7 linked regions of the Homo sapiens genome follow. The protein of the gene in region 1 purifies or fractionates together with the protein of each later gene. This does not show direct contact. Each region holds a gene or a part of one and is shown in the gene's direction. Other genes may lie near its edges. The genes, in order: C16orf87, MIER1, ANAPC2, CDC27, CDC26, NEK2 and ANAPC16.

Evidence for each region.
Region 2: the proteins of C16orf87 (region 1) and MIER1 purify together in Homo sapiens (co-immunoprecipitation; 3 studies listed by BioGRID and IntAct, with this or other methods). This does not show direct contact.
Region 3: the proteins of C16orf87 (region 1) and ANAPC2 purify together in Homo sapiens (co-immunoprecipitation; 3 studies listed by BioGRID and IntAct, with this or other methods). This does not show direct contact.
Region 4: the proteins of C16orf87 (region 1) and CDC27 purify together in Homo sapiens (co-immunoprecipitation; 3 studies listed by BioGRID and IntAct, with this or other methods). This does not show direct contact.
Region 5: the proteins of C16orf87 (region 1) and CDC26 purify together in Homo sapiens (co-immunoprecipitation; 2 studies listed by BioGRID and IntAct, with this or other methods). This does not show direct contact.
Region 6: the proteins of C16orf87 (region 1) and NEK2 purify together in Homo sapiens (affinity purification with mass spectrometry; one large-scale study listed by BioGRID and IntAct). This does not show direct contact.
Region 7: the proteins of C16orf87 (region 1) and ANAPC16 purify together in Homo sapiens (affinity purification with mass spectrometry; 2 studies listed by BioGRID and IntAct, with this or other methods). This does not show direct contact.

Annotation. Positions count from the first base shown.
Region 1 is NC_000016.10:46,828,381-46,832,503, reverse strand, and holds the start of C16orf87 (UPF0547 protein C16orf87), read left to right. Parts: upstream 1-1,323; 5' UTR 1,324-1,354; coding exon 1,355-1,420; intron 1,421-1,455; exon of another isoform or gene 1,456-1,869; intron 1,870-4,123.
Region 2 is NC_000001.11:66,931,490-66,934,989, forward strand, and holds part of MIER1 (mesoderm induction early response protein 1), read left to right. Parts: intron 1-3,500. UniProt on the Homo sapiens protein: Transcriptional repressor regulating the expression of a number of genes including SP1 target genes. Probably functions through recruitment of HDAC1 a histone deacetylase involved in chromatin silencing.
Region 3 is NC_000009.12:137,174,284-137,178,560, reverse strand, and holds the end of ANAPC2 (anaphase-promoting complex subunit 2), read left to right. Parts: intron 1-444; coding exon of another isoform or gene 445-493; intron 494-779; exon of another isoform or gene 780-2,723; coding exon 2,724-2,853; exon of another isoform or gene 2,854-3,045; coding exon of another isoform or gene 3,046-3,088; coding exon 3,089-3,324; exon of another isoform or gene 3,325-3,406; coding exon 3,407-3,619; 3' UTR 3,620-3,777; downstream 3,778-4,277. UniProt on the Homo sapiens protein: Together with the RING-H2 protein ANAPC11, constitutes the catalytic component of the anaphase promoting complex/cyclosome (APC/C), a cell cycle-regulated E3 ubiquitin ligase that controls progression through mitosis and the G1 phase of the cell cycle.
Region 4 is NC_000017.11:47,137,296-47,140,795, reverse strand, and holds part of CDC27 (cell division cycle protein 27 homolog), read left to right. Parts: intron 1-1,904; coding exon 1,905-2,057; intron 2,058-3,435; coding exon 3,436-3,500. UniProt on the Homo sapiens protein: Component of the anaphase promoting complex/cyclosome (APC/C), a cell cycle-regulated E3 ubiquitin ligase that controls progression through mitosis and the G1 phase of the cell cycle.
Region 5 is NC_000009.12:113,269,533-113,272,572, reverse strand, and holds part of CDC26 (anaphase-promoting complex subunit CDC26), read left to right. Parts: intron 1-24; 5' UTR 25-65; coding exon 66-146; intron 147-3,040. UniProt on the Homo sapiens protein: Component of the anaphase promoting complex/cyclosome (APC/C), a cell cycle-regulated E3 ubiquitin ligase that controls progression through mitosis and the G1 phase of the cell cycle.
Region 6 is NC_000001.11:211,672,822-211,676,798, reverse strand, and holds the start of NEK2 (serine/threonine-protein kinase Nek2), read left to right. Parts: upstream 1-1,177; 5' UTR 1,178-1,319; coding exon 1,320-1,415; intron 1,416-2,285; coding exon 2,286-2,503; intron 2,504-3,075; coding exon 3,076-3,316; intron 3,317-3,977. UniProt on the Homo sapiens protein: Protein kinase which is involved in the control of centrosome separation and bipolar spindle formation in mitotic cells and chromatin condensation in meiotic cells.
Region 7 is NC_000010.11:72,214,707-72,218,811, forward strand, and holds the start of ANAPC16 (anaphase-promoting complex subunit 16), read left to right. Parts: upstream 1-1,305; 5' UTR 1,306-1,432; exon of another isoform or gene 1,433-1,570; intron 1,571-2,114; coding exon of another isoform or gene 2,115-2,147; exon of another isoform or gene 2,148-2,428; intron 2,429-4,105. UniProt on the Homo sapiens protein: Component of the anaphase promoting complex/cyclosome (APC/C), a cell cycle-regulated E3 ubiquitin ligase that controls progression through mitosis and the G1 phase of the cell cycle.

The DNA of each region.
Region 1 (4,123 bases):
ACTCATAACTTTGCTTTAGTTAACAATTGTTGAATAAAAAGTTATCAGTGGAATAGCCAGTCTCTGTAATAAATGCATATTGGTAAATTTTCTCTGAGCCAAGTGTACAGTTTGTAAATTTTCTTTCTGTTATGTTTGTTCTGATTGTTTATTAAGTATAACTTTGGGTCTGTCAAATTAAATATTTAAAAGTAAGCTTACGTTTTGCATAGTTGTTTTTAAATTTCACTTTTTCTTTCTTTTTCTTTTTTTTGAGACGGAGTCTCGCTCTGTCGCCCAGGCTGGAGTGCAGTGGCCACAATCTCGGCTCACTGAAGCCTCAATCTCATAGGCTCAAGCGATCCTCCCACCTCAGCCTCTCTACTAGCTAGGACTCCAGGCATGGGCCACCACGCTCAGCTAATTTTTAAAAATCTTTTACTTTTTGTAGAGATGGGGGTCTCGCTATGTTGCCCAGGGTGGTCTGGAACTCCTGGGCTCAAGAGATCCGCCCTCCTCGGCTTCCCAAAGTGCTGGGATTACAGGCGTGAGCCATTGCGCCCAGCCTCGAATAATTTAATTTTAATGTTAATTTAGTAAGTATCAGTCACGGACAGATTGGAAAAAGAAAAACATCTGATCCCTCATCTTGATAGTGAGTAGCACTGGTTTACACAGCTAGGCTGCTCCTTGAAGGCTGACACTGCATTTTATTCAAATTTTCCTGACAGTGGGACTTAGGCAATTATATATTGAATAAATAAATGAATTTTCACTCTGCTGCTGGGTCCAGTGGTCTCATAAAATGTCTATCATAATTTCTCAATGATTAGCCTTGGTAACATCTACTTAAGTTTATTAAATGCCAGGATCCACGCTACGCCCTTCACCATTCATTCCCCAGCCTTCGCTCCCACGGTCTCTGTGGGGATGGGGCGTGCCCAGCACTACGGCCCGCCCTACCTATGCATTCGTTGGTCGAACTCGACGCCCGTTACTGCCGAGTCCCGCCCAGGCCTTGCCCCCTCGTAGTCGGCCAGGCCGAGAGGAGGCGTGGCCACTGCCGCGCCGGGGCGGTCTGGCGGAGGGGGGGGAGGTCTCCCCTCGTCTCGTGATACTCTGGGCGAGCTCGCGGGCGGGCTGTGGGTCGCGAGCCGCCGTGGGAGCGCGTGTCGCGGTCCCCAGGAGCCGCCGGCCGACGCTCCGCCCCGCCCCCTTGGCGCCCAGGTCCCGCGCGAGCTCGCGCACGCGCGCGCGCGCACCCGCCAGAGGCTTGTTTGAGGCCCGCGGGGACTGGGCGGGCGGAGGCCGGGCTGCCGAAGTGTGAGGGGAGGAGCCCGAGCCGTCGCTGCTGCCGCCGCTAAGGGAGAGGAGCATGTCTGCAACTCGAGCCAAGAAAGTGAAGATGGCCACCAAATCATGCCCCGAGTGCGACCAACAGGTGGGTGCCGGGGGCCGGGCGCGCGGGCGGGCGGCAGTGGCTTGGCGGCCGTTGTCTGTGGAGGGGGGCCTCGCCGGGCTCCCGGAGGCCGAGCGGTGGGCAGATCCTGGGGCCCGCCGGCGGCGGCGGGGATCCGGGGCCGGTCGGGCTGCACCGAGGGGTTTCCCGGGAAAAGCCCGGGGCCGTGGCCCGCCAGCGTCCACCTGGCGGCGGCCAGACGGCCAAGCCCCTTCTTGCTGTGTCCCGGCCACTGGAGGAGCGCGCCTTTGGTGGGCTCACCGGGCGGCTGTCTGGAGCCCCAGACTCTCCTCGCCGGCGGCGGTGACAGCGGTGGGAGCCTGCGGGCCGCAGCCCCGGCGAGAGTGTGCCGCACGCCCGCCTCCGAGGCCAGGCCCTAGCTCCGAGAACCCCTCCTGCGGCCGGGGCGGCTTTGTTCCCGGTTCCGACGGGTGCGGGGCTTCCCCAAAACGGCCCCTCCGCGACCGGGGCGGGCGCCTGAGTGGGACAAAGGGGGCCGCGTGTAATGATTTTGAGTTTCGGCGAATTTGGAGATTTTTTCCCCTTCCTCATCTATTTATTATATTTTTGCTGTGCAATCGCGAATCCTGCCTTTACATCGTTTTTAATGGGTCATGATTGAATAAAGCCCCTGTTTAAGCCCTTCCTCCTTTTTGGGCGCTCCTAACTTCCCCACCCCTCGCAGTATCCACTGTTACAAATTTGGCCTGTCTGCTTCCAGATCTGTATCCCTGTCTGTCTGAATGTCTCTGTGTGTCTCTCTCTCTCTCTCTCTCTCTCTCTCTCTCTCTCTCTCTGTCTGTCTCTCTCTATCTCTCTATCTCTCTATCTCGTTTCTTGAATTTGAAACGATTCCTTTCTACATTGAGTTCATGGTGTAATAGTTGTAATTTAAAACATCTCATTTCAGTGATCGCTGTGTTGAAGCGTGTCTCAATTCTTTACTGGAATAATAGACATTCCTTTAAGCCTTAACATCTAATGAGTTAAAACTACTTCAGTTAAAACCATTCGTAAGGCCCTCGTTTGTTACCAACATGTAGATCTGGGTGTGTTTTTTCCTTTTCCACTGAGTGGATTTTTTCAAAATGACTACCTTTCTCTCCTCCCCTCCCCCCACCGCCTTTTTTTTTTTTTAAATCAAGAGTAATTTGAAATGGCTGGAGACTTTTTAATAAGCTGATTTTAGTGCATTTTTCAAGGAGAATTCTTGTAGGTTTTTCAAATCTTTTAACAGAAAACATGTTACATGTTTTATTAAGTATCCTTTATGGGCTGTAGTAAAAATGCTTATCAGAAAAAGGTTGTGCAAGAAATACAGTGTAGGAGCTATACCAGTATGCAGTATAAAAACAGTTTAGTCATGTTTTCCAAAGAGTTACTTTCATTCTTACTACTGAACTAAATTTGTTAAATTTTGACAAAACTGGACTTTGCAATATGACTCTTTGCGGGAGATTATTTCAGTGTTTAAATCATTTCCAATTATTCCAGTTAATTGTGTAGAAGTGTAAGGTTTACATGGTATGCGTTATGCATTCCAATTTCTGTAAGGCACAAGTATTTGCAAATCCTGACTTTGTTCTAATTGGCATAAAGCAACCTTTTGGGAAAAATAGCCACTTTTTATGGCTATTTTTATATAAAAGAGCAAAGGATAATAAACTTATAGGAGTTTCTGAAAAACTGTTCAACAAAACAAGATCAGCGTTTTATTTGGAAAGATCACATTCATTTTGTTATACACCCCCTCCCCCATATTTATTCTTTCATATAAAATCAGCTTACCCAGCTTTGGCTGCCATAACAAAAGCATGATTATGTTCTGGTGAGGGCTCTCTTCTTGGCTTGCAGATGGCTGTCTTCTTGGTGTCCTCACATGGCAGAAAGAGGGTCAAGCTCTCTCCCTTTTCTTAAAAGGTCCCTAATCACATCATGAGGGCCCCACCCTCATGACTTAATTTAAACCTAATTCTCTCTCAAATGGCCCATCTCCAAATACCATCACATTGCGGTTAAGGCTTCAATATATGAATTTGGATGTCGAGGGGTGCATAATTCCACCCAGAGCAAACTAGTACATAATTTAATGAGTTGGTTTGTTTTGTCCTTTATTCCAAATACTTAAGTGAATGTAACATACATAAGGACTAATTAAAACTTTTGGTGATATGAACCTGATGTGAAAAAATAATGGATGAATTTTAGCTTTCTCATTATTTAAAAGTACTAGCTTCTTTTAGTTATAAGCCAGAATATGATTATAATCCAGAAAGCCATTTTCTAAACATTAGAATACTGCTATGATTCTAAGTTGCCTAAAAAAAATTAAATTCGAATTTAGGTATAGTTTATAAACATAAATGTAAAATCTTTAAATTTGAGATTTCCCAGTTGACTAGATTTACTTATGTGGGTGTGTAAGTTTGAAAAATGGGTACAGAGATCAGCAAAGAAGAAAAAGCTAGATTTTCAACTGCTTTGTAACATCTCCTTTGCAGGCTTCTATTGAACATATCATTCTAAAACATCTTAAACCACAGTCCTTTTCATTTTCAAGGGGTTTCATATCCATCAATCACTCAAAATTACTGAGCCATTTTGTGTGCATCAGTGCTCAAGATTCTTGTCAGTTTTCTGGTATCTTTTGTGTATGCTTCTGTTTTTGCCTTCATTTTTAAAAAA
Region 2 (3,500 bases), on another chromosome or scaffold:
TTCATGGTTTCACAGGCACCCCAAAACAGATTTAGGAAGGAGGGTGAGATTTTGCTGTAGCAGACAGGACTGTTTGCTGCGAGTATTCTTTTTAAAACATTCAATATCTCTAATTTACAACTAAATTTAGATCTTAGATTTATTTTCATTTCTTTTGCTCTTGGTGGTTAAAGAATTGTATTTCCAGGCACATGAATTGGAGAACGTAGTACTTTCTGTTTCCCCAAAATGTGACTGCGTTTGTTCCAGTAGACTGAGAATCGGTACCTGGATTTTAGTCCTGGTGAGGTTCTTATTCTTAAGTGTTTGTTTCCTTCATGTTTAAGGAGTTGTGTGTAGCTGGATTTATACATTTTGTCAGTTAGTGTCTTCAGTGGACCCCTTTCAGTGAATATCGGGTAAGCAGCAATGTGCTACATAGGTAATGTGGTTTCTTCTTTCATGGTGTTGCTCAGGATGGTTTGAGCTTTGAGGTGTGTAGTCATATACTAAGGCAAGATATTACTGAAGGAAAATAGCTTATACAGAGAAATTTAAGTTAAAAAACTTAAATTTAAAATTTCTGTGTTTTTAAAAAATAAATTTTATTGCCGAGGGAACTAAAAAATCTAATATGTAAAAGAAATTATGTTAACTTTTTTGTTTTAAAAATTAAAGATGGTTGCGTTATTGTAAGATAAAGGAAAAAAATATTTTGATTCACTAATCATTTCCTAATATTTTCTAATGTATGTTTTAGTTTTCTTAAATATTTTATCAGTTGGAGAATGGAATGTTTTGTGGGAACGCATGGATTGTTCAACTGCAAGAAGGAAAGAACTGGAATTTTGTTTTTATTTGGTTTTTAGTGTTTATTTAATGACCTGGTATCTTTAAACAATTTATCTTCTATATTCTTCAGTTACTTGTAGATAGTTTCATGTATAGTGAATTGGGGAAGAGTTAGAGGAACTTTCGTGATCTGTGTCCTACAAAAAAATCTAAGACAGGTGAAGAAGTGAAAAGTACAATTGATTTATAGTTTTCCTGGCCTCAATACTTGAATAATTATGACGATTTTTGAGACCAGTGGTTTTAAACAATTAGACAAAGGAGAAATGCTTGGTTGGCTTTTACTTTGAGCTCTCAGTAGATTCATTCTTTATGAAGCCAATATAAAAGCATGTGATTAAATAATCCAGATGCTGAATTATTGTGCTTTTGATCAAATAAATCTGAGGATTTAAGGATAGCTTGTGAAGTAACAGTAAGTGCAAAGCAACAGTATATATCTATTTGTTAAATCTGAGGGGGAAAACAGGTTATTGAAGAAGTATGTCTCCAGAGAAAAATGTAGGTATTATGCTTCTGGGCTTTTAAAAAAAAAAATTGATGCTTCCTACAAGAGCATGACCCTGACCATGTTTTTCCAGAAAAATATTTAATTCTTGAATAGAAAGTGCTTTAGATGAGAATAGGATATACTAATTTTTTATATTTGATCTGATTATCTTAGTCCATAATAGGAAGTATATATTGGTTCTTCAGTTGTGATAACATTAAAGCCGTATTTAATGTACTTAGAATAAATAGCATATGCTCCCTTGCTTAATACTTTTTGGCAATATTTCTCATTGCTTATTATCCCTTAAAATTATTTACCAACCTTCTAAAAGGACGCTCTCCTAGTCACACTTGAAGGAAATTACAGGATAGTTGCAGTTTTACTAACTGCAAAAATAAGAGGAAAATGAGAGAAAAAATGAGAGGAAGAAATAGTTAATCCTTTGGGTTTTATAAGGAATGTACTAGGGACCTTTGGGAACGAACAATTTGTCTTGTATTTTAGCGTTTGTAAACACGTAAGGGACTTTCTTCTCAAGGAAAAAAATCCATGGACAATTCAAGACCTGTCTTTTCACCTAGGCCACATTTCTGTGATATAAAGAGAAAATTAATGGATTTGCTTCTTTCTATTTAAGTATTTTAGTACTTTCAAAGAGGGTATATAATCTGTTTATTCACTTTCACACCTATCCATTTCTCTTTAAAATGGACTCCTTGCTTAGTATTTTTTGAGTGTATTTGGATTTTTTTAACGAAGGATTATGTTAAATGTTACTTATGAAAACATTAATTTCTACTCTAAGCAAAATGTGTTTCACTGCAGTGAATTTAAGCTTCAAATAATTCTCGACACTAATAATGAATTTTTTTTCATGTTTATACTTCAGAGCTATTAAGATTTTAAAAGTAGTCAAGATCACCAGTGCGTGAGAGTCCTAAAAATCTTAATTCATTGGCAGTTAAGAGTTAGGGTACTTTAATAGGTGGGAAAGGTTTGGTGGGAGAAACAAGTGAATTACTTTAAGATAATTCTGGTAAGTGAGACTAACCAGTTTTCTAAATAATTCAGAAATAAAACACTGCCATTGAAGCTTAAGCATGTCTTTATGAAAAGTAATCAGCTATCTAGAAATGCCTGCCTGGCTTGATGTTCATTCAAAATTCATTGCAGTGATTAAATTGTTCAAGTACCAGTCATTGCTTGGGGCTTGTTCTGTTTGTCTTATTCTGTGGCTTAGAACAATAACTTATTATGTAGGTATGAAATTCATGAAGTAGCACCCCAAAAAATTGTTTTTGCAAATTGAGATTTTTTTAACAGTCCTAGATTTAAAAAAATAAATTTAAACATATCCCATGCATTTAGCTGCATACTCCTTAGTAGTGTTAGGTTTCTAGAGCAATTTATAATAAAAGTAAAGTTAGGTCTTGAAGAAATCTAAATCTTTTGATCATAGAGAAAATGAAAGTGAGCAGAGAGTTTACGTAGTTTGTCCTAGGTCGTGCAATTCATCTATGGCACAGTTTAGACTGGAACCCAGCCTTCTGTATTCCTAGATTCCTAGTGCTTATTTTCTTTTTCTTTCTTTCTTTTTTTTTTTTTTTTGAGACAGGGTCTCTCTCTGTTGCCCAGGCTGGAGTGCAGTGGCGCAAATCATAGCTCACTACAACCTCAAACTCCTGGGCTCAGGTGATCAATCCTTCCCTCAGAGCCTCTCAAGTAGCTGGGACTATAGGCATGTGCCATCATGCCCGGCTTTTTTTTTTTTTTGTGGAGACAGGGTCTCGATATGTTGATCAGACTGGTCTCGAGCTTCTGGCCTTAAGTGATCCTCCTGTCTTGTGCTGGGATTATAGGCGTGTGCCACTGTTCCCAGTCCTTATTTTCTATGATATCATTTTACTTCTGAATTATTAATACTGTAGTAAATTGCTAATTTTAATTTCAGTACATTCTTAACCTTTTTATACCCCAGAATTCCTGAGAGTAATAACAAAGTTAAGTAACTTAATTTTATTGGAGGAGAGGGATGGTGAGCCAGCCCTTGGCACGGTAACCATCTTTCACCCTAAAGTAGGACCCCTCTTTCCAGGCTTCTATCCCCATCTCCATTGCTGTGAGAATCTCTGACTTAGAGTCTACATAACTAAGTAGATGACGGCAATACTTAAAA
Region 3 (4,277 bases), on another chromosome or scaffold:
GGTCCCTTTCCCCCTGCCCCTCTGGCTGCCTCAGGCTCTCCAGCGTTGCTTCCAGGCAAGGCCCCAATGGCCTCCCTCCAGGGTCCTGCCTTGGGTCCCAGGCATGACTCAGCCACTTCCTGTTGCTCAGGCCTGATGTGCTGGGACAGCCACACTCTAGTGCCCTTTGTCTTAACTTCAGTGGGACACAGGAGTGGCTCAGGGAGGCCCCGGGGCTGTGCTGAGAGGTCCCACCAGCAGAGCTCCTGGCCGAGCGACCTTGTTGGACACGTGGCTGGCCATGCAGCCCACAGCGTCACCCCTGAGCCCTTGCATGTGTCCTGCGGCAGGCTGACCAGTGGCGGCGTTTGTGGAGGTCATGGCCTTGGAGCCAGAACTAGGACCTAGCAAGCCACTGACTCCACTTCCATTTTCTGTCCATAAAGAGGGGTTTGTTTCCATTAGAAGCTGCCGGATCCTGGAAGGACTCAGGAGCCCTTGGCCCACAGAGCAGGTGTGTCAGTGCCCCAGTGCTACCAGAACAAAGTACCACAAACCAGCGGGCTTAAAAGAAACATATCATTTTACAGAAGTCAGAAGTCTAAAGTCAGGGTCAGCAGGGCCCTCCGAAGGCTCTAGGGGAGGCTGCTTCCTCCCCTCTTCCAGCTTCTGGGGGCTCCAGGAGCTCCGGGGCCTGTGGGTGCCTCGCTCTGGTCTCTGCCGCGTCGCCCGTGATGTTCCCCCGTGTCTCTGTTCCTATCTCCCTCTTAGAAGAACACTCTCTCTATTCCAGGGTGACGTCATCTTAATTATATCTTTAATGACCGTATTTCCAAATAAGATCTCATCAGAGGCACCGGGAGTTAGGGGTTCATGTGTCATTTTTCGAGGGGCACAATTCAGTGCATGACAATTTGCCCCATGGTGGGCCCCTCCCACGTGCAAGTGACAGCCCCAGTGTCCCCAAAAGTCTTCACCATTTCAGCATCAACTCCAAGTCCAAAATCTCATCTAACTACCATCCACACAAAGTTCCACACACATCTCAGCCTGTAAATGCATCTTAACGAGGTCCAGGTGAGGCTGGAGTGTGCGCCATTCCTCTACGTAAATAGATCTAAACAAGGTACAGGTGAGGCTGGAGTGCGCGCCATTCCTCCAGCTGGGACGCCGTGAAATCAGCCAACAGATGATCTGTTTCAAAAGTTCAGCCGTAAGACAAGCATACACATTCCCACCCCAAAAGGGAAAACTGGGAGGAAAAAGGACAGCGAGTCCAAACCCAGCAGCCGAAATTCCACTTGACTTCCAGGCCTGCGAATCCTCTTTGGCCCCCTGCTCCGTCAGCCTTGGCCTCGGCGGCTCTGCTCTTGGAGCCTGCCTTCCTTTCACTCCAGCCTGGCAGCACTTCTGCGGGTGTAAAATTCTCACACCTTGTTGGCTTATGCAGCTCACCAGTGCCGAAGCCTTCAGACAGGCGGGTCCGCAGCCCTTTCCCGGAGGCCCCACCTGTCCCTGTCTGCTGCTGAGATGGTTAGTTGGATACACAGGTCACACCTCATGTCTAGCAAACCCTGGTCCAGCCACACCCTTGGCCACGTCTCAGAGCTGCCTGGATAGAGTATTTTTCAGATCCCCAAGGGCTGGTGCCTTTTTGCTTAATGGTCCCTGCCTCACTGATTGTTTCCCTCTTGCATTCTGCTATAAGTAGCAAGGAGAAGCCAGGTGGCACCTTCCACACTGCTTGGAAATCTCAGCTTGATGTCCAGGCTCATCAGCTGCAGGTCCCACTTCGCACCCAACAGCAGAGCAGCAGCCAGCCAAGCTCTCTGCTGCCTCCTCCGGTTCCCAGTAGCACGGTCATTTCCATCTGAGACCTCACTGGAAGCACCTGTTGGGTCGGCATTGCTGCCGACATCCAGTCTGTGATGCTGTGTGCATTCTCCAAGACGGCGGCAGCTCTCCTCTTCCAGCCATTTCCAGGCTTGTCTTCATGCCTTTCTACCAGCAGTCGTGCAGGCCTCACCAGTTCTTCCAGCCTCTCCCCATCACCCACTTCCAAAGCTGCTGCCACAGTTCTTGGTGTTAGGTTTTGGCAGCACCCCTCCTGGCCCTTCCTGGTACCAAAATCTGTTCGTTTACTGTGGCTGCTGTAACAAAGTGTCACAAACTGGGTGGCTTAAAAAACAGAAATAGATTGTCTTAGTTTTGGAGGCTGGAAGTCCAAGATGAAAGTACTGGCAGCCCCGTTCCCTCTGAACCCTCTTAGAGACCTCCGTTGCCCCCCAGCTTCTGGTGTTTGCCACAGCCCTTGGTGTTTCTTGGCTTGTGGCCGCGTTGCTCCAGGTGGTCTCTGTCTTCGTGTGGCCCCCTCCCCGCCTGCCTGTGTCTTCCTATCTTTCCTTTTCTTAGAAGGACCCCAGTCAGTTGGGTTAGGATGCACCTCAGTTACATCTGCATCAACCCTGTTTGCAAATATGGCCACATTTCCAAGCACTGGGGGTCAGGAGGCCCCTGTAGCCTTTTCGGGACACACCTTATGATGCTGGCCCCATTGCCCTTCCATGGTGGCTGAGCAGGTGGGGACCCCACCCAGTCCTGTGCTCTCGCTGCTCACCTGCCTGCCAGGGTGGGGTGGGGCAGGTGGCTCTGGGAGCCCCTTTCTCACTGGTACCAGGTGGCAGAGCCCACGGGCCTGAGCGCCCTGCAGCCGAGCTGCCCGTGCTGACCCTGGCCCTCCTTAGGCCATGCGGACCCTCAGTTGGAAGCACACCCTGGGCCTGGTGACCATGGACGTGGAGCTGGCCGACCGCACGCTGTCTGTGGCGGTCACCCCAGTACAGGCGGTGATCTTGCTGTATTTTCAGGACCAAGGTGAGCCCACCAGCCCCTAGCTGGCCTGCCCCGGCCACACGGCCCAGCTGTGGGTGAGGGGCTGTTCCCCAGTGAGGGTGTGGTTTGGGGCAGCTGCGCCAGCAGGCGGCACCCTTCCCTTTCCCACGGGCAAGGCAGGGTGGCCCGGGAGCCCCCCGACCTCTCGGCTGACGGGAGGCAGGGGAGGTGCAGCCCGTGCCCAGGCTGCCCAGCGTCCCGGTGACTCTGCACGCAGCCAGCTGGACCCTGGAGGAACTGAGCAAGGCGGTGAAGATGCCCGTGGCGCTGCTGCGGCGGCGGATGTCCGTGTGGCTGCAGCAGGGTGTGCTGCGTGAGGAGCCCCCCGGCACCTTCTCTGTCATTGAGGAGGAGCGGCCTCAGGACCGGGACAACATGGTGCTCATTGACAGTGACGACGAGAGCGACTCCGGCATGGCCTCCCAGGCCGACCAGAAGGAGGAGGAGCTGCTGGTGCGCGTGCAGGCCCCACGGGGGGCCAGGGGGCGGGGGCGAGGCCTGCAGGTGCCTGACGGGGGCTGGCCTGTGTCCGCAGCTCTTCTGGACGTACATCCAGGCCATGCTGACCAACCTGGAGAGCCTCTCACTGGATCGTATCTACAACATGCTCCGCATGTTTGTGGTGACTGGGCCTGCACTGGCCGAGATTGACCTGCAGGAGCTGCAGGGCTACCTGCAGAAGAAGGTGCGGGACCAGCAGCTCGTCTACTCGGCCGGCGTCTACCGCCTGCCCAAGAACTGCAGCTGACACATCGCCCGCCCGCCCGCCCGCCCGCCAGGCGCTGCCCTGCAGGTGCTCTCGTCCTCCCGTGCCAGCCCCCGCCCGCCCGTGTCCCAGAATGCACTGCTGAGGAGCATGCCCACCCCCACCCCCGCAGTGTGCAGATTAAAGCAAGTCAGATCATCCTTTTCTGTCCTGGTGGCTTTGTGGGGCCCCCCAGGATCCTCCTCTAGCCTGGGCCTCTCTCTCAGCCTGGCAGGGCCTGCTCCTCAGCAGCAGGTGAGGGGCCACCTAGGCCTACACATCTGCACTGGGAATGTAGCCTCCTGAGAGAATCCCGGGCCGCCCCCGACCCAGGGTGCTCAGGGAGCGGCACGTGAAGGTCCACGTCACGCCCGGGCCACGGCTCAGGCAGCCACGTCCTAGGGCTTAGTGCTTGCTACCCGCCAGACCTCCAGCTCCATTCCTGCGCCTCTGGCCTTTAGAAGGAGCCCTGGGGTCACCCTCTGCTCAGCCTGTGCCCACCTCCACACGCTCGGCCAGGAGGTCTCGGGCGAGGTTGGGACGTTGTGCGGGTTCGGTTGGAATTGCTGAGGCTGGCGAATGACCTCTAGGCCAACACGCCTCGTCTCTGGCAGTGAGGCTCTGCCGAAGGCTGTGCCCTGGTGGCCAGAGGGACTGGGCA
Region 4 (3,500 bases), on another chromosome or scaffold:
AGACAGAAAGTCTTATTCATTGCTACAAAACCCATGTTTCGATTATGGTCCTTTACTGGTATGTAGCATATACACAGACAGGCAAGAGCTGTGTTCGGAAAAGCCATTTAAAAAATTATTTCTAATTTATTGTTTCACAGCTACTTTAACATAAATGAATTTTATTGTTTCCCCTAGTTATAGTGGTGACCCAAATATTTAATTAAAGAAAGCCTCTGTTTCAACTTAATTTCTGAGTTTTTTTCCCATTTTTCTTTTTGTCTATGCCATAATCATTTTTCAGAGGAAGCAACAGATTCTGAAAACTTTGAAACCAAAAGGTACCTACCTATATTTGGCTGGTAGGTCTTTTATCTTGTTACCATGCCTGAATGAAAAACTTGGCCAGGTGTGGTGGCTCATGCCTATAATACCAGCACTTTGGGAGGCCAAGGAAGGGGGATCACTTGAGCTCAGGAGTTGGAGACCAACCTGGCCAATGTGGTGAGACCCTGTCTCTACAAAAAAATGAAAAAATTAGCTGGGTGTGGTGGCACTCACCTGTGGTCCCAGCTACTTGGGAGGCTGAAGTGGAAGGATCACTTGAGCCCTGCAGGTCAAGGCTGCACACTTACCTTTATAACTTTTAAGAGATTGCAAGGAAGTTACAAATCGTTAAGCTATTCCTATATATCATATGACCACTTCTTGGAATTAAGCACTCAGTTTTAAAATGCTCTTATTTTCTGTCATACTCATTTCATTAAGAATAGTCCAGATATTCCTTATTATAAACTAAACTGTGAAAATTTCTTTTCCTTTCTTTTTTTTTTTATTACCTAGACCTTTTCTGGCAGCTGAGAATTTTGAACTTGGTAAATTGATAAACTAGGAAACTGATTTTATATAACCTAAATCCTCAAACTTTAGAGGGAGAGAAACACAGTTCTGGGAGCTGTGAATGTGATGAGGAAAAAAATTGATGAGGCAGCTGAGGAGAGACCCTGAAGTCAAGAGAGTGCTGCAAAGGAAAGGATAATTAATAGGTAGGGCCTATGATTCCTAGCAGACACAATATTGGTGTGTATATTCAGGGCTCAATAGGATTTATAACCATAGGATTGATAGCCAGCTTAACCTGTTTCTTCCCTCTAAATTTTCTGGCACAACCTCTCGGTAAAAATTGTTCAAAAATAGATTTTATGTTACAGAAATCATTCTTCCATCATCTTTCCTAAAAGAGTTATTCTGGCCAGGTGTGGTGGCTCATGCCTGTAATCCCAGCACTTTGGGAGGCCGAGGCGGGTGGATCACAAGGTCAGGAGATCGAGACCATCCTGGCTAACATGGTGAAACCCTGTCTCTACTAAAAAATACAAAAAATTAGCCAGGTGTGGTGGCAGGCGCCTGTAGTCCCAGCTGCTTGGGAGGCTGAGGCAGGAGAAGGGCGTGAACTCGGGAGGCGGAGCTTGCAGTGAGCCGAGATTGCGCCACTGCACTCCAGCCTGGGCGACAGAGTGAGACTCCATCTCAAAAAAAAAAAAAAAAAAGAGTTATTCTGTAATGCCATTATTAAAACTTGGAAATGAGGTTTTTGAGAAGGAAATATTGACTTTTCTTTTGAATTGTAGCTTTGTATAGATTTCTCTTCGGTCTTTTTGGTAGAAACTCAAATTTCCTTTTCAGAGTTCATGTTCTTACCATGGCTTGTATATAAATACTAGGTTGACTGTCAATATGGTTACATCACTATTTGACCTGCCATAGTAGATTGCTGAATTTGTCCTTGTGTTAATACTCATTCACATAAAAACCATAATACAAGGCAGCATTTAGATCCTGTGAAGATAATGACCAGGGCTTTCCCTGTGTATATATATAAATTGTATCAACTTGTTTTCTCTTACTAGTTTTTTTTATTTCAGGCTGAAAGAATATTCTCAGAGGTTAGAAGGATTGAGAATTATAGAGTTGAAGGCATGGAGATCTACTCTACAACACTTTGGCATCTTCAAAAAGATGTTGCTCTTTCAGTTCTGTCAAAAGACTTAACAGACATGGATAAAAATTCGCCAGAGGTATGTTAACCAAAATACTTTGCTTATATAGTTACCTTTTTGATCACCCTCAACAGATAGAGATGAACCAAGCAATTCAAACACTATTTAGTGTCACCCACGCTTATTTCTTTTTTTTCCTCTCTCTCTAGTCAGGGACTCAGAGAGGAAGAGAAAGTCCTAGAATGTGTGGTGCAGATTCACAAATAGAAAAATCACAAAGCAGCTATTTCATTCAGGATTTATCGAGATTTGACTACGTTAAATTTGCTGTTGTCACCAAGATTAGGGTTCGTTGAGCAGAAGTTACATAGATTGAAAAAATTAATAATTTTAAATTAAAATAAATTAGTATTGTCATTGTAAGACATAGGTGCAATTAATGTACATGCTCTAATCTTGTAAGATTGTATTTCATTGCATCTCAAAAATATTTAATGATACTTTTGTAACATATCTAAGCTTAGAATTAAACACAGTCAACTCCCATTATTTGCGGTAATTCTGTAGTCAACATGAACACTGAATTAGTGCTACTGAACCAATGTTCCTGGGAGTGATGGAGAGTTTGAAACAGAGATAGATTGTGGATTATAATCTTGAATCCTAAAAATAACTCATCCTGGTAGATCCTATTTTCTTTACAAAAGAGAGAATGCTGCTGGGTGTGGTGGCTCACACCTATAATCCCAGCACTTCGGGAGGCTGAGGCAGGCGGATTCCTTGAGCTCAGGAGTTCCAAGACCAGCCTCGGCAACATGGCAAAACCCTTCTCCACAAAAAATACAAAAATTAGCCAGGTATGGTGGCTGGCATCTGTGGTCCCAGCTGCTCGGGAGGCTGAGACAGGAGGATCACTTGAGCCTAGGTGGCGGAGGTTGCATTGAGCCAAGATCACACCACTGCCCTCCAGCCCGGACAACAGAACAAGACCAGATCTCAAAAAAAAAAAAAGAGAGAGAATGAGGTTCAGAGGTGACTTGCCTGAAGCCATCCTACTTAAAAGTGCCAGCAGTGGGATTCAAATTCTGTCCAACTGTCCCCAGAGCCAAAGCTTCTTGCACTACACTAAACTAGCCCACAGAGTTTCTGTCCCTGGTCATCTCTGCATGAGAGCTAAAACAAGAAGGTAGAGTCACATTATTCAACCTCAAATGAGAACATACCTTTTGATGACTATGAAAGCACTGCAAGTATTGATTTTGGTTTTACAAATAAATTTTAGCAATCAGACAAATTCACAAATATGGAATCTGTGAATAATTAGAATTGAGTATCTACTGAAGCTCCTCCATTTTTGTCTTTCTGTTCTAAGTTGAGGCTTGATTTTAGTCATAGATTTGGTTTTAGAAAAAGTAAAATTTTAATTCTGTTTGGTTTTTGTTCCCATTTTTTTAAGGCCTGGTGTGCTGCAGGGAACTGTTTCAGTCTGCAACGGGAACATGATATTGCAATTAAATTCTT
Region 5 (3,040 bases), on another chromosome or scaffold:
CCTCCTCTCTTTCATTTTTAACAGCTAATAGTTCACTGGGTTTGGCCCTTAGTGTTGACTTCAGTATGCTGAGACGGAAACCAACACGCCTAGAGCTAAAGCTTGATGACATTGAAGAGTTTGAGAACATTCGAAAGGACCTGGAGGTATGAATACAACTTTGTGTTTTTTTGAGATGGAGTCTCGCTCTGTCACACAGGCTGGAGTACAGTGGCATGATCTTGGCCCACTGCAACCTCTGCCTCCTCTGCCTCAGCCTCCCGCGTGCTGGGACCACAGGTTCATGCCAGCACGCCCAGCTCATTTTTTTATTTTTAGTAGAGTTGGGGTTTTGCCATGTTGGGGCCAGGCTAGTCTCAACTCCTGACCTCAAGTGATCCATCCACCTCAGCCTCCCAAAGTGCTGGGATTACACGCGTGAGCCACTGCACCCAGCCATGAATACAACTTTCAAAGCTTAAGGAATATTTAAGATAATAATTCTTGTGTGGGCACAGTGGCTTACATCTGTAATGCCAGCATTTTCTGGCCAGGAGTTTGAGACCAGCCTGGGCAACATAGTGAGACCTTGTCTCTATGTTGGGCAGGGTGGCGCATGCCTGAGCTACTCAGGAGGCGGAGGCGGGAGGATTGCTTGAGCCCAGGAGTTTGAGGTTACAGTGTGCTATGATGGCTCCACTGTACTCCACACTGGGCAACAGTGAGACTCTCTGTCATACATAAATATGTATATACACACACATACATACACAATAACTTTAACTTCTGAACTGCAGACTCTTAAGCCAACAGCTTATTTGAAATCTCTGTTTGGATGCTTTACAGGCATCTCAAACTTCATGTATGTCTCCTGTGGCTGCTGTAACAAAGTACCACAAACTTCATCGCTTAAGACAACAGAAATTTATTATTTCACAGTTTTATAGGCCAAAAATTAGTATTGCTGGGCTGAAATTTAGGTGTCAGGAGGGCCACATTCCCTATGGAGGATCTAGGGAAGAATCCATTCCTTGGCTCTTCTAGCTTCTGGTGGCTGCTGGCATTCCTTGACTCATGACTGTATCACTCCAGTCTCTGCCTCCAGAGTCATATTGTCTTCTTTTCTGTCTGTGAAAACTTCCTCTGCCTCCTTCTTATGATATGTGTGATTGTGTTTAGGGCCCACCTGACTAACCCAGGATAATCCCCCCTTCTCAAGATCCTTAATTTAGTCACACCTGCAAAGGCCCTTTTCCCATATAAGGCATTTATAGGTTCCAGGATTAGGACCTGCTAGCTTTGGGGGCCATTTTTCAGCCTACTACACTTAACATGTTAAAAAAAGAAGAGAGAAAAACTCTTGATTTCTCCCTTGAACCAGTCGTCCCTTCCATTCTTCCCCAGTGTTTCCCATCTCAGTATTGATTCAGTTCCTCAGGCCAGAAACCTAGCAGTCATTCCTGAGTCCTCCCTTTCTCTTACGCTTTATATTCGATCTGTCTGTAGACCCTTTGATTCTACCTTCAGAATATGTCTGGAATCCACCCATACCTTTTCATCTCCACTGTTACAGTCCTGCGCTAAGTAACCGTCTTTCCCTGTATAATTGTAGTGGCATCCTAACTGGTCTTCTACTTCCATTTTTGTCTCTTTCAGTGCATTCTGCATCCAGTATCAAGAATGATCTTCAGAAATTTTCAAATCCTGTCATTCCCGTTTAAAACTCCTCAGTAGTTTTCTGCACTTATAACAAAATCTGAATTCTTCACCATGGCCTACAAGATTTTGTATGTTCTAGTGCCTCTCCAGATTCATTTTGTGCCATTCTTTGCCTTGCTCTCTATACCCTAGCCACATTGGCTCTCTTTCATTTCCTTGAACATGCCAATCTATTTATCACTTCCATGGACTTTCCACATATTATTTCCCCCTGCCTGGAGTGCTCCCTTTCTTCCAGTCTTCATTCAAATGTCAACTCTTCAATTTAAGAGGCCACTTTTGACCGTATCCAAGTTTCATGTGTCATTCCCGTCCATGCTGCCTCCATCTCTGTAGGCTCTCACAAAGCACCATATTTTTTTCATAGCATTTATTATAATTTACAATTTTTTTTATTGTAAAATCATTTACATTAGGGACGTTGATTGCAGAAATCATGTCTGTTTGCTTCACCATTGAGTTCTTACCATCTAGTTCATAGTAGGGGCCCCATATGTATTTTTAACTGTGGCCTTGCTACATGGTATTAGATGTCCATTAATAAGACTTAAATTCTTCAGTGGTCTACAGAATAAATTCCAAATTCCCTAGCATGGCATATGAGCTCCTTGTGAGCTGGTCCTTGCTTATCTCTCCACTTTCACTGCTGGGTTATCTTTAATCTCAGTGCCTATACACAGTGTTCCCTTTGCCAGAAAAGCCCTTTCTTTTTCTTTGCCAGGCTAACTCTTACTCCTTCCAGCCCCCAGCTGGGTTAGGCTCAACCTTATCCTCCTGTGCTAACCTCTCTCATAGGCACGGTCACTCTCTGTTGTAATTGTCTGTTTGCTTTTGTTTTCCCTCACTGGGCCATAAGCTCCTTGAAGTCAGGGATTAGTATATTTCTCTCTGCATCTGTTCCCTGCAATACCAGGTCCAAAGGAGGGCTCAATGCAAGTCTATTTTCATTTGCTGTCCTAGTAGGTATCTTGTACTATATGGCAGAGGACAGTACGTTTTGCATATATTCACCAACAGCTTTATTATGTATTGTATATGCTTCATATTAAGACTAATAACTTAGATTTCTTTCCCCCTGCTTCATCCCAAGAGACTTTAGTGTTCTCTAAGTATCGTAATTTTTGCTTTCTAAAAACTCATATATTATTAAGCATGAGCTTTAAAGTATGGCTTAAACTTCAGTTGTAACGAATCTCATAAAATGCTAGCATGCTGAACTTTGACTCTACAGTCAGCTCACTATTGAGTTAGTCTTTCCACTAAAGACAGTTATCTAGTGGGTTTTACCTTGTTTTAGAGTAACTTAGGAAGCAGGGACAGTCATGCCCTAAAGTGAAACCAG
Region 6 (3,977 bases), on another chromosome or scaffold:
TTTAAAGAAAACTGGCCTGTTCATGCATTTCCAAATTATTAGCTTTCTGGTAATTTACATATTCCTCTAACAAGCCCTGGATGGAGGCCTCTAAGTCCTCCTTCCCTGGTAAACATGGGGCTGTTCATTTGGCTGGGTAAGCTGAGAACGTTGGTGTGTGGGTGCGTAAAAGAGAATCTGTGTTCAATGAAGTATTGTCGATAGGGTTAATTGTGTATTTGGCACACATAAACGGGACAAGACGTGTAAAGTACTTGGTAGGAGAGCGACAGTATTTCTCCTTTTTTTTTTTTTTTTGGAGACTGGGTGTCACTCTGTCGCCCAGGCTGGAGTGCAGTGGCGCACGGCTCACTGTAACCTCTGCCTCCCAGGTTCAAGCAATTCCTCATGCCTCAGCCTCCCAAGAAGCTGGGATTACAGGCCTGCAACCCCATGCTCTGTTACTTTTTTTTTTTTTTTTTTCATTTTTAGTAGAGACGGGGTTTCGCCATGTTGGCCAGGCTGGTCTTGAACTCTTGGCCTCGAGCAATCCGCCCGCCTCGGCCTCCCAAAGTGCTAGGATTATAGGCGTGAGCCACAGCGCCCGGCCTAATTTTCGTATTTTCAGTAGAGACGAGGTTTGCCCTGTTGCCCAGGCTGGTCTGAACTCCTGGGCTCAAGCGACCCACCCACCTCGGCTTCCCAAAGTGCTAGGGTTACGGGCGAGCGTGAGTCACCGCGCCCACCCGGGAGTCTGTATTTCTAATTTGTATTCAGCTCTCAGCATATCCTCAACGTGACCCCACCCAGGTTCAGGGTACTGGAACCTGAGCGAGGAATGCGTGTGCCGGGGAGAGTAGGTAGTGTGAGGGGCCAGAGTGCAAAGGTCAGAAGGCATCTGGTGGAAGCGGTGTGCAAAGAAGCCTGAGGGGAGGACCTTAGATCTCGGTTACCTTGGCGATCTCTATCAGAGGGTTAGAGTTGCCGAGAGGCGCCAGCTGCCGCTTCCTCTCTCCCGCCCTCCGTTTGGCTTAGCTCGCCGGGTTCTCCCACAGGTTAAAAGCAGACGCCGACGCGGTTGCCTAGTGACACTTTTCCCAAAATGCCTAGGGTATTGTTGTGTTCTTCTTAGCCAATGAGAGAGGCGAAGCGGCCCACCGCCTGCCAATAGACTGCGAGATCAGGGCCCGCGACGGTTAAACGGGGCCCAAGGCAGGGGTGGCGGGTCAGTGCTGCTCGGGGGCTTCTCCATCCAGGTCCCTGGAGTTCCTGGTCCCTGGAGCTCCGCACTTGGCGGCGCAACCTGCGTGAGGCAGCGCGACTCTGGCGACTGGCCGGCCATGCCTTCCCGGGCTGAGGACTATGAAGTGTTGTACACCATTGGCACAGGCTCCTACGGCCGCTGCCAGAAGATCCGGAGGAAGAGTGATGGCAAGGTGAGCGTGGGACCTACCCTGCGCCTGCCCCTGCTTAGGTTTCGTCGCCTCGGGGCGAGCGCCCTGCGCCACCGAAGGGAACCGACAGGGCTGAGGAAATGGGTGCCCGGAAGACTAAACCGTCTTTCCTGGGTCTGCATCTGACAGCCTGTCCTGGGTGGCTTAAAGGATGGGAGACCGCTTCTTTTGATATATGTATTTCCATCTTTTCCCGTTTCTCTCCCCATTTCTCTCTTTCTCCTGCTTTGGCTTGCTAAGGACCTTCCATTGGTGACAGGTAACTAATTCCTGAGCTGTTTTTAGAGCTCTAAGAGTGGCCCTCTCAGGCACAAGAAAGGGGCAGGACTACCAGAACCCGAAGCTTTGTATCTGCAGTCAGACTCCCTCAAAATATCCATTATTAGGATTATTGGATTCATATTTCCCAATGTATATAGGTAGAACTTTTACAGAAAGTAACATTGGACAGGAAACTGCCTGGCTGCTGATGGAGGGATCTTTACCAAGGTGTCTCATCCTGGGAAAACACGACTGGGGTGGAATGGGGCAGGGACTTTGACCACCTTCACCCCAATTTTGACTATAGTACCTTTTAGCCAACTTCCCACTAACCAACTGAGGGTAGGGGTTGGGGGAGTCCTCATGTGCCTCATTCCCGTTTGTCTCCCCACAACATACATTTACTGCTTAGAACTGGAGGAAGATTATGGAAGTAAACTCACAGCTCCTTAAGTTCATTGAACTAAATTAGATAATGACCTTGATTGTAGGATATAATTAAAAGGGAGGTAATTTGTTAAATCTTGGAACTTTCATTCTTTGTTTTTGAGCATAATGAGTTCATTCATACCTTGGAAATTCTTATTTCAGATATTAGTTTGGAAAGAACTTGACTATGGCTCCATGACAGAAGCTGAGAAACAGATGCTTGTTTCTGAAGTGAATTTGCTTCGTGAACTGAAACATCCAAACATCGTTCGTTACTATGATCGGATTATTGACCGGACCAATACAACACTGTACATTGTAATGGAATATTGTGAAGGAGGGGATCTGGCTAGTGTAATTACAAAGGGAACCAAGGAAAGGTAAGCATAATCTTTTAAAAATGTAAGCTGAAATTGGTCTAGTTTCATTTATTTTAAGCATCTTGTTTTAGGATCAGTAATATGGAAGAGTGTATTTGTATTTGTTTGGTAGGTCCACAGTACTTTAGAAAATTCCTGGTGAATCAACACCCATATTTTATATCAAAATAACAATTTATAGGCTGAGTGTGGTGGCTCACACCTGTAATCCCAACACTTTGGGAGGCCGATGCGGGAGGATCACTTGAGCCCAGGATTTCAAGACCAGCCTGGGCAACATAGTGGGACCCTGTTTCTACAAAAATTAGCCAGGTATAGTGACATGTGCCTGTAGTCCAAGCTACTTGGGAGGCTAAGGCAAGAGGATTGCTTGAGCCTGGGAGGTCGAGGCTGCAGTGAGCCATGATCGTGCCACTGCATTCCAGCCTGGGTGACAGAGTAAGACCCTGTCTCAAAAAATATAAATAAATAAATAAATAAATTCCCTATTTGTACACTGGATAATTTATATCATCCCATCTTGGCAATGATTTTTTTAGAAGTTATATGCTGTATAACTGCTTTGGTTTTAGGCAATACTTAGATGAAGAGTTTGTTCTTCGAGTGATGACTCAGTTGACTCTGGCCCTGAAGGAATGCCACAGACGAAGTGATGGTGGTCATACCGTATTGCATCGGGATCTGAAACCAGCCAATGTTTTCCTGGATGGCAAGCAAAACGTCAAGCTTGGAGACTTTGGGCTAGCTAGAATATTAAACCATGACACGAGTTTTGCAAAAACATTTGTTGGCACACCTTATTACATGTCTCCTGTAAGTATTTCAGAATTTAGCTACTTTTTAAAACATCTTTTATTTTTGTTTTCTTGTTTGTTTGTTTTTGAGACAGAGTCTCGCTCTGTTGCCCAGGCTGGAGTGCAGTGGTGCGATCTGGGCTCACTGCAATCTCTGCCTCCCAGGTTCAAAGGATTCTCCTGCATCAGCCTCCTAAGTAGAGTAGCTGGGACTACAGGTGCATGTCACTATGCCTGGCTAATTTTTGTATGTTTAGTAGAGACAGGGTTTCATCATGTTGACCAGGCTGGTCTCGAACTCCTGACCTCAAGCGATCTGCTCACCTCAGTCTCCCAAAGTGTTGGGATTACAGGCGTGAGCCACCATGCCCAGCCAAAACATCTTTTAATGTTAAGCATTCTGAAGCAGGGAAATTGAGTTTTCTGTTTGTTTAGTAATATCTAGTAGCCAAGAATTGAAAATACTGTTATATTTTTCCACATGGACCACCAGACCAATAAAGTCTATATCAGTTTTTGTTTGCTGCATGAGTTATGTGCATTAATGTAAGTATGATGAAGACAGATTCCTAGTCTAAGGTTTGCGCCGTTTGTCATCTCTCACTGGGTTCAATTTTTTGAGCATTCATGCAAATTAAAGCATATTCAGTTCAAGCTTTTATGGAATGACTATGATGCAT
Region 7 (4,105 bases), on another chromosome or scaffold:
CAATGAGGGATATTTAATACACTTAACCATCCAGAAAAAAAAAAGCCCCTAAGTACTTTTAGAGGTGCTAGAAATTCATACCAAACAATCAGTTCCAGTTGTCTGTTAAAGCACAGTTAAAATAACAACTTAACCAATATGGTTCTCAGACCAACATACTGCTGAAGGGGGGAATCCAATTTCCACAGGCCACTGCCCAACAAAATGCACATCGCTCACTGCGAAGCCAAGCTTCTGGTCACATCACTTAATGAATCAATAATTTAGGAAACAAAGGTTCCTTACAGGCTAGCTGAGGTTAAATTCAACCAATATTCCTACCACGTACAGCTTAGATAGTCTTGAAGCCCAAAATACTTAAAAGTTCCAAAGAAAACAAGTTGATCCTTACTAAATACACTAATGTTCAAGCCAACGTGGGCGCGGTGGCTCACGTCTGTAATCCCAGCACTTTAGGAGGCCGAGGCGGATCATCTGAGGCCAGGAGTTCGAGACCAGCCAGGCCAACATGATGAAACCCCGTCTCTACTGAAAATACAGAAAGTAGCCGGGTGTGGTGGCGGGCGCCTGTAGTCCCAACTACTGGGAAAGCTGAGGCACGAGAATGGCTTAAGCCTGAGAGGCGGAGGTTGCAGTGAGCTGAGATCGCGCCACTGCACTCCAGCCTGGGCGACAGAGCGAGACTTCGTCTCAAAAAAATAAATAAAATAATAATTGATGAGTTGTGCGCTTACAGAACCAAGAAGAGGTTTCGTGAGAAATAACAACACAGAAGGTAAACCGACATGGATGGAGGAAAAGGGCACATCATTAGCAATACTCGATGACATCACAACCCAGTGGCCTATTCCCCGAGGCCTCTAAAGTTCTCAACGAAAAAAGACTTTCAAAGGAAAAGCTTAAAAAAAAAATGTTCCCCACAAAAACAGACTAAGATGAAAGTCGGGCCCTCAGACCACGAGCTCCGGAAGAACAGGCAGTTGTCGCGGAGACAGCAAATGCAGCATCTACCTGTCCTACATGGCCCTGCGCTACGAGACTGCTCGGAAGGAAAGAGAGGAATAACCAACTTAACCCTGCTTCGAGGTGGTTTGGAGAGGAAGAGGAAAGCTGTGTCTTTCTGCAATATCGTGAGGGAAGCCGAGGCCCTGAATCATCAAAGAGAAGGAGAAGAGGACTAGGCGGCTGCAGGTAAACCAAGGTAGGGCGAGGAGGAGGACCCGGAATTCCTCTACGCGAGCGCGTTCTCTGCTCCCCTCCTCGCGTCTCCGCCCCGGCCACGCCCACCACGGCACGGGCGCGCGCACGCCGCCTTCGCCGCTGGCTCCGTCTGTTGGGGGGCGAACACGCCGCGGTCCTCGTCGTGGTGAGCGCAGCCACTCAGGCTGGTCCTGGGGGTGGGGCTGTAGGGGAAAGTGCTAAAGCCGCTGAGGTAAGAGGCCGAGGGGTCGAGGGCCCTCGGGAGCTTGGTGAAAAGGGAGTTAACCCCCAGGATCCTACCTGCAGGGACTAGAAAAATGGAGAAGGTAGGAGGAGAAACAGGAGACTGCTGCAGCAGACGTGCGATAGGAAATTTCCCCAGGCCGGGTTTGACCGAGTGCGCATGCGGGCCGAGGGCTGGCGCCTGCGCAGTGGGACAGCGCCGATGGCGTAGTTTCCTGGGGACCCAGCTGGGTGGGAAAAGTGGCTAGGAGTTAGCTTGGGAGCCGCTGGTGTTCTGAGCGCTCCCCTCTCTGGCCACTTTTTCTCCACGCCCACCCCCGCCCCGTTCCCGCCCCCCCCCCCCCCCGTTACAGCTGCGGCATCTATTTGGTTTGGGTTGTAATCCAGCTGTTTTGAAGTGGAACGATTTGTTGATGATGGAATTTAATGATTACTTGTAATAATTTGCCTTTGTACTAGGGTAGGAACTTTTAAGGAATTACTCTTTTTAAGAAAATAGGCATATATCTGTTAGAAAGGAAAGGAATTTATATTCATAAATATATGAATGCGAGGTCATCCCTGCCGTACATGAAGTAAATGTTTAAGCATCTTAGCTCGGACACAGCAATCTGTGTCCACAAAGCATCGTTACTCTCCTGTGAGGATCTCCACTGTCAGCCCCAACTTACCTGACAGGGCCAAGTCCCAGGATACTTCATCATCAGTATTTGTTTGACAAAATTTTACTGGGCACCTCCGGTGGGCCTGGCAAACTGGTTGAAGATAGAGTTGTGCGAATAGATCTGCACAATGAGAAAGAAAAAAATCCATAATGATCCAATACTCATGACACAGCGCTTCTCTATCTCCTGCATGACCTTTGCTGAGCTGCTCGCCCTGCGTTCTGTCGTTTGTTCATCATTCATTCATCCGAAATGCTCGGGACTGGAAGCACAGTGGAAACACTGCCCCAGGTTCTGTGCTCGGCATTGAGGGTAGAAAGACTTTTCGAAGGTGGCAGGGTGTTTCTTAAGATCATTGAACCTTAAAATGAAAGTGTAGGCCGGGCGCGGTGGCTCACGTCTGTAATCCTAGCACTTTGGGAGGCCGAGGCGGGCGGATCACGAGGTCAGGAGATCGAGACCATCCTGGCTAACACGGTGAAACCCCGTCTCTCCTAAAAAATACAAAAAATTAGCCGGGTGTGGTGGCGGGCGCCTGTAGTCCCAGCTACTCGGGAGGCTGAGGCGGGAGAATGGCGTGAACCCAGGAGGCAGAGCTTGCAGTGAGCCGAGATCGCGCCACTGCACTTCAGCCTGGGTGACAGCGAGAATCCGTCTCAAAAAAAAAAAAAAAAGGAAAGTGTAAAGTGCTTAATAGAAGGCACTGGCCCTCCTCCTGAACAGATTCTTTCTCCTGTGGGAGCTTGCTGACTCTGTTAGATGGAGAGAATTAATACTTTTCCCATGAGGTTTTTTCATAGTAAGTATGAAAACCTGGGATCTGCATAGGAAAAAAGACTCAGTAGTAACTCTCCGTTAATGACTTTGAATAGCCAAGATTTATGAAGTGTTTACTAAGCCTGTAACTGTTCCAAGTGTTTTACGTGTATTAACTAATCTTTGTCACACCTGTGTGAGGTAGGTGCCGTTATTACAGGTTGAGTATCCTTAATCCAGAAATCCAAAATCCTCCAAAATTTAAAACTTTTTGAGCACTGACAGGATGGTCAAAGGAAATGCTAATTGGAGCATTTTGAATTTTAGATTTTCGGATTTGAGAGGCTTAATCATTAAGTATAATGCAAATATCCCAAAACCTGAAAAAAAAATCCGAAATCCAGAATACTTCCAAGTCCCAAGCATTTCGGATGAAGGGTACTCAACCTGTTTCCCATTTTGCAGATAAGACAACTAAGGAACAAAAAGATCCCGGAGGGGGAGGCGGAGGTTGCAGTGAGCCAAGATCGTGCCATTGCACTCTAGCCTGGGCAACAAGAGTGAAACTCTGTCTCAAAAAAAAAAAAAAAAAAAAATATATATATATATATATATATATATATATATATATATATATATATATATATATGCCGGAGGTTGCAATTTTTTACATTTTTGGCATCAGACCTTGGCGATGACCTTGAGCAGTAGGGTATAAATAACTCCCACATGCTTAGCGTTCCAGTAATGGAACACTAGGCATAAATGGGTTAAATGATGTGTCCACAGTCATGCAGCAAGTAAGTAGCAAAACCAGAACTCAGAGAGGCTTCATAATCTTACCCATTATGCTGCTTTACGTTGCACATGACAAATAACATACCAACAAGCCATTGCTTCAAAATGTCACAGCAGATAAGCTAAAATTGTCTCTACACCTCAGTTTTATTTTTTCATATATAAAATGGGGAAGTTGGGTTAGATGACCTTTAAGGAATCTGTGGTTTCTGTGAAATATTTAATTCACTCAGCAAACATTTACTGAAGTGAACAACTACTTCCTTACTATAGGCCAGGTGTTATGTTTGGTTCTGGTGATCAGTTAATTCCTGCCCTGAGAGCAGTTACCATCTAGGGTTTATTAGTTTTGCTTTACTCTCATTTACCACTTGCTGGTAGCATTCAAAATTTAACCTAAATCTTTAGAGCTAGAAATTACTTAGGTATATCCTTCCACCTCA